Homo sapiens: one gene and its partner. The protein of the gene in region 1 purifies or fractionates together with the protein of each later gene. This does not show direct contact. Each region holds a gene or a part of one and is shown on either strand. Other genes may lie near its edges.

Region 1 (2,714 bases):
CGATGGTGGATGCAGTGGCCAGGGACTTCTCCCAGGCCCTGAAGAAGAAGGTGCTGCAGAACGCCCGGGGGAGCCTGACCCTGGACGTCCAGCCCAGCATCTTCCACTACACCATAGAAGGTGTGGGCCATGCGGGAAGGTCCAGCCCCAGAGACCCTGGAGTGGCCAGGGATGGGGATGGAGGACTGAAGGGAGTGTGGGGAGGCAGCCAGGAGGCCTGGGGCTGCCTTGTGCTCAGCAGTGCATCCTCCCCGCAGCCAGCAACTTAGCTCTTTTTGGAGAGCGGCTGGGCCTGGTTGGCCACAGCCCCAGTTCTGCCAGCCTGAACTTCCTCCATGCCCTGGAGGTCATGTTCAAATCCACCGTCCAGCTCATGTTCATGCCCAGGAGCCTGTCTCGCTGGATCAGCCCCAAGGTGTGGAAGGAGCACTTTGAGGCCTGGGACTGCATCTTCCAGTACGGTGAGGCCAGGGACCCGGGCAGTGCTATGGGGAAGGGACACCATGGGGGCCCAATTTCTCCTTCTCCACCACCCAGTGGGGAATGGAGGCCACAGGGAGGGGTCGGGGATTCCTCACCTTCCTGCCGGGGAGATTGGTGCGAGGCTGGGGCTGGGCTGGGCTGATCCGGAGAATTTGGGATGAGAGCAGGGAGATTTGGGTGTCGGGGCAGTCTGGGCAGGAGGAGGACACTGAAGGATGCTTCCCAGCACCAAGATCTGAGGGCTGTCCCCTGCTCCCTGGACAGGTGACAACTGTATCCAGAAAATCTACCAGGAACTGGCCTTCAACCGCCCTCAACACTACACAGGCATCGTGGCGGAGCTCCTGTTGAAGGCGGAACTGTCACTAGAAGCCATCAAGGCCAACTCTATGGAACTCACTGCAGGGAGCGTGGACACGGTCAGGCCAGCAACCAGCCCCACCCAGAGAGGGTGATGCCAAGCCTGCCTCCCAGGCACTGCCTGCCAATGCCACACGGCACCCACGTTCCCCATCCCCAGGCTACAGGCCCCACATTTCTGTTGCCCTCAGCCTTCCCCCTCCTTTGTTAAGGGATGAGATTTGCAGGGGAGGGGAAATGTGAGCTCCCCCTCACATGAGACTGAGTTTGCAGTTACCTGTGTGGGGATCCATGCTCCAGGCTGGAAGAAAGTTGGATGAGGCCCTGGACACACAGCAGCTCTGTCCCCACTGGAAAGCTCTGGGTGTACAAGGAGAAGGAGGGTTGAGAGGCAGCTGGAGGACTCCACTGGGCACCCTTCCCAGTGTGCCCGGTCACCTTGGGCCAGAAATGTAGATGCATGGGAGGGCAGGGTTGTGGGGAAGACAGCAGCACAGGCTCCAGCCAGTGCAGAGGGGCCTGTGGGTGCACAGTGGGGAGAACTCAATGGAAGCAGAGGGAGCTGGGGCTCCAGAACTCCCTGGATGATGCTGAGGTGTGGCCCCCTGCCCTAATGGTGGCTGTGAGAACCCGCCCTGAAGAGGCTGCAGGGGACCTGGGCCTTGGTGGAGATGGGGGTCACCTTTCCCTGAAGAAGTCAGGGAATCTGGCCCAAGTGGTCATCAAGGTTTCAGATCCGGGGTCCCAGGGCTCTGTTTTTGCTCAGGGCATGGATGTCTCCACCCCTCAGAGGGAGGTTGTCCTGGGAGGGGTGTCCCGGGGGCTGAGTCCTCCTGTGCAAGGTCTGACCCTGCAGACATGGCTTCTGTAGACAGCGTTTCCCTTGCTGATGACGCTCTTTGAGCTGGCTCGGAACCCCGACGTGCAGCAGATCCTGCGCCAGGAGAGCCTGGCCGCCGCAGCCAGCATCAGTGAACATCCCCAGAAGGCAACCACCGAGCTGCCCTTGCTGCGGGCGGCCCTCAAGGAGACCTTGCGGTGGGTGCTGGCTGAGGCCTCCCTGTGGCCCTGGCCCCCTGCTGGAGAGCAGCCCCCACTGGGTGGTGGCAGACAGAATCTGGGGCTGATAAACAGCGTCACCCAGCAGCCCATTCCCCTGCACCTGCTCTTCCTCCCCCTCAAGGACAGGGAGCTCTTCTTCCTCTGGAATCCCTCTTCAACACCCTGGGGATTAACGTGGGGCATGTCCTTCTGCGCTTGGGGCTTCTCAAGTTAGGGGAGGTTTGGCTGGGCTCAGCAGGTGCAAGGAAGTACTTCCTACGACCTGGGCTTCCCATGGATCTGGGACCTCTGCGGGGTCTTCGGTAGGAAGGGTGCAGAGAGCACAGGAAGCCCCATCCAGCTGAGGACCCTTTCTATGGATGCCCCCACCTCCAGGCTCTACCCTGTGGGTCTGTTTTTGGAGCGAGTGGTGAGCTCAGACTTGGTGCTTCAGAACTACCACATCCCAGCTGGGGTGAGTGAGCCCCACACCCCTCGAGCTGAGAACCTCCCTCCCCAGTCATTCCCTGATCCCTGCTCTGCACCGTCCGCAGACATTGGTACAGGTTTTCCTCTACTCGCTGGGTCGCAATGCCGCCTTGTTCCCGAGGCCTGAGCGGTATAATCCCCAGCGCTGGCTAGACATCAGGGGCTCCGGCAGGAACTTCCACCACGTGCCCTTTGGCTTTGGCATGCGCCAGTGCCTCGGGCGGCGCCTGGCAGAGGCAGAGATGCTGCTGCTGCTGCACCACGTAAGCAGGCCTGGGGGCGGGGGCGGGACCTGGGCAGCAGAGGCGGGACCTGCACACTGGGGGCGGGGCTTGCATGGT
Region 2 (3,822 bases), on another chromosome or scaffold:
ATCACACCTTCCTCATGATTCACACTTCAGGTCACTTACTCACTGTGTAACTCTGTGCAAGTTCCCTAACCTCTCTGTGCCCCAGTTCCCTTATCTGTAAAATTCGCTAAATTCCAGGAAGGGCCAGCCACACTGGTAGGCCTATGCGGTGCGGTGGCCGATGGGGGACAGACGACACACAGAGGCAGAAGCCAAAGAACACGGGTTTAAAAACAAGGGGTTAAGAGCAAGAGCTTTGATTCAGACGAACCTGGAGTCCAGCCTCACTTTCGTTGTTTTACTTATATGTTATTGGGCAAGTTACCAAATCTCCCTAAGTCTGTATTCCTTCAGCCAAATAATGGGATGACAATCTGTTTCACTGGATGATTGTGAGGTTTAAATGTGGTCATGCATCAAAGTTCCTTATACAGCACTCAGTGCACAGCAAATATTCAGTGAATATTAATTATTTTATTATGACTGCTACCAGCATCTAACGACAGTCCTAAATACCATCTAAGTTTACCAAATGTCTCTCTGATTTACTGGTGACATTGGATAAAGGAAATGCTAAGAGAATGCAGTGCAGTGGAAAGAAGGGCGGGCTGGACATCAGCGTTCTGGTCTCCATCCGGGACTGGCCAGCAGGTGGCTCTGGAAAAGGGAGTCCCTCAGGGTCACGGTTTTCTATCTGTCCTGAGGCATGATCTTCAAAGTCCATTCTAGCTTCTGTCTATGACTTTAGATCTGACAGAAATCTCCCCGGAGGAACTCATGAGCCGTAAGTTAAACATGGTTTGAAATCACCCTTGAGCTCCTTGCTGATCATGCTTATCCATGTTGAAGGCTCATCCAGGAATAATAGATGGGTCTTGTGTGTGGTTTGAAAAGTTCACTTCTGGCCAGGTGCAGTGGTGAACCCTGTAATGCCAGCACTTTGGGAGGCCAAGGTGGAAGGATCGCTTGAGGCCAAAAGTTCAAGACCAGCCTGGGCAACATAGTTAGACTTTGTCTCTAAAAAATAAAAATAAAAATTAGCTGGGCATGGTGGTACACACCTGTGGTCTCAGCTACTCAGGAGGCTGAGGCGGTAGGATCACTTGAGCCTGGGAGGTGGAAGCTGCAGTGAGCTATGATTGTGCCAGTCCACTCCAGCCTGGGCAAGACCTTGTCTCAAAAGGAAAGTACACTTTTTATTTTCACAGGAGGTAATGATACATTCAAGTTGGTTACTTTACACAAGAAGAAATTTGTGTAATTTCTTACACAAAGAAATTACACAATTTTAGATAAATTTATCTTTATCTAAAATTATAATAAATAATTTTATTATTTAATAAACAATAAATAAATCTAAAACTCATTTATGTAAAATTTGTCACTATCTAAAATTTTCATAGTAAATTGTATGGAAAATATAATATCCCGTAGATGTGTCAAGACCAGAACATAGGTCAAACAGAGCTGAACTCGAGTCTCAGGTCTGCTGGTTGACTGCTAGTGACCTTGGGCAAGTCACTTACCCTCTCCAGTTCTTGTTTTCCTCACCTGAAAATGGGAACGATATTGTCTGCCTTATCGGGCTATGATGAGAATGGAAAGCTAGAACATGTAGACTGCCCTCCATAGTGCTTGGCATGGGGTCGTTCCTTTTCCCTCCCAGATGGAACACTGCATCCATCCCGATGGAGGTTTCTAGATGATGCTCCAGAGGATTCCAAGCAGAGAACATTTACAATTTCCATACATTACAAAAGTGTGAGCCTGCAAGGCAAGGTCTGGAGCTGGGAGCACATCTGGAGCAGTGGGTGGGTACTGAGAACCATATCCACACACACAAAGAAATGTGTTCGTTCAGAAGATCCAGCATCAATTCCTTCTTCCTAAGATTTGACAAGACTGGAGTCATTTCTTCACCAGGCCCATTTTATGAAAAACCCTGGGAAAACTGAGGTCCAGCAGCCAAAGATCTAACACAGCGGAATCAGGAAAAATGGTGGACAGGCCCCTGAAGGCACGTAAGGAGCAGGGAGCCTGGTGACCTTGGTGCACCCAATGCCTCCCTAACTAGAGTAATGGAACACCAATGTGGTTTACATTCATAATCCCTTGCATTTGAGAATTTTTAAATCTACTTAAATTTTCAAACAAGGGACACTCACACCACCTCCCACACTTATTAGCATGCTGTTTTATCACTCCGATATGTTCAAGGGACCCACCCCCATAAAAGATGGAAGATGAATCAGAAAACTCAACTGGAATTGCACTCCCTAGAGGGGCCCTGGGAGTTGTTTAGATATGCATAGTCTCACCTCAAGGCACATGCTGGGTACAAGATCCCTTATCACACCTCCAGTCCTGCTCAGCTTTTTAAGGGAGCATTTCCTGATATATAGGTCTTTAACTACCAGGTGTATTTGCCCACTGTCCACCTGTGCCTTCAAGTACCGTACTTAACAAGTTGGAACCGAGGGAATGGTACACTTCACATTTTGCAACTGTTATGCAAATAGAACTTCAATGAAATTCCTCAAACTGTTGACTCTAGAAACCGTGGGAGACAAAGGGTCAGTGTCTGACTTCACGAACGTTACCAACTTGAAAAATGAGATCTATTCCTTAGTGTGTGGGAGGAAGACATTTAAATCTGTAGTACCCTCAAAGCCTCACTCTAAACCTGGTCTGGCACTTTTCAATGTGTGTTCTTTGATATGGTAAGTAGTTAAGTATATCCCACCAGAGACCTTCCAAGGATGGGTTTTTTCCTCCATATGACTTCTCTCACTCTTTGCAGGAGAATAAAATAGAGTTTCAACTGAACTTTAAAGCTGTAACCTGATCTCAGAATCATGCACCATAAACAGCATTTGTGCTTTTCAAGATACTTTCAAATCCATATAGTTTTCCAAGATATTCCTAGTTGCCACATTGGGTGATTTAATTTTTTTTTTTTTTTTTTTTTTTTGAGATGGAGTCTCACTCTGTTGCCCAGGCTGGAGAGCAGTGGCGAGATCTCGGCTCACTGCAACTTTCACCTCCCAGGTTCAAGCGATTCTTCTGCCTCAGCCTCCCAAGTAGCTGGGATTACAGACACCTGCTACCACGCATGGCTAATTTTTGTATTTTTAGGAGAGACAGGGTTTTGCCACATTGGCCAGGCCGGTCTCAAACTCCTGACCTCAGGTGATCTGCCTGCCTTGACCTCCCAAAGTAATGGGATTTCGGGTGTGATCCACCGTGCCTGGGCTGGGTGACTTAATTTTAAATGTAGGGACATCAAGCAAAATGTTGCTGAGGAGTCTCTTTCGCAGCAAAAGTCCTGTGAAATCTGCAAGGCCATCTTTTTCATGGGTCCCCAAATGTTTCACAGGCAACTGGGCAATAATTGCATTTCCAGGAATGCCAAATGGAGCCAAATCCTTTTAATAGCTCACTGACATGCAGGTTATTCCACTGGGGACCAAAAGGAAGGAACTAGAGCTCTCAAAATATTTGATTCTTGATTTGTGCTCTTCACTGGATGATTCTATTTTCTTGAGAGCATTTTTAACGAAACAGCAGCAATCAGTGATTTCTTAGAAATGTGGCCCCTTTAAATACACTTCAGTGAGGCTAGCTCTTGTGTTTCCTGGACACTCTGTGTGTTCTGGACATACTGGAGGCACAGCATAAATATTAATGCTGGCCATTACAAAAAGAAAATGAAAAGACCCCATAAGGCAGCAGTGACCCTAGAAGCCCCAGAAGCCGTGTTGGAACTGTGACAAGGAAGGATAGTGACAAGATCTGAAAAAAGCAGCCCTCTTCCCACACTCAACACATGCAGTAAACCCAGAC

The links.
Region 2: the proteins of CYP11B2 (region 1) and TRIM2 purify together in Homo sapiens (affinity purification with western blotting; one study listed by BioGRID). This does not show direct contact.

What each region holds. Positions count from the first base shown.
Region 1 is NC_000008.11:142,912,452-142,915,165, reverse strand, and holds part of CYP11B2 (cytochrome P450 11B2, mitochondrial precursor), read left to right. Parts: coding exon 1-120; intron 121-257; coding exon 258-461; intron 462-747; coding exon 748-902; intron 903-1,714; coding exon 1,715-1,881; intron 1,882-2,280; coding exon 2,281-2,359; intron 2,360-2,438; coding exon 2,439-2,636; intron 2,637-2,714. UniProt on the Homo sapiens protein: A cytochrome P450 monooxygenase that catalyzes the biosynthesis of aldosterone, the main mineralocorticoid in the human body responsible for salt and water homeostasis, thus involved in blood pressure regulation, arterial hypertension, and the development of heart failure.
Region 2 is NC_000004.12:153,207,133-153,210,954, forward strand, and holds part of TRIM2 (tripartite motif-containing protein 2), read left to right. Parts: intron 1-3,822. UniProt on the Homo sapiens protein: UBE2D1-dependent E3 ubiquitin-protein ligase that mediates the ubiquitination of NEFL and of phosphorylated BCL2L11. Plays a neuroprotective function. May play a role in neuronal rapid ischemic tolerance.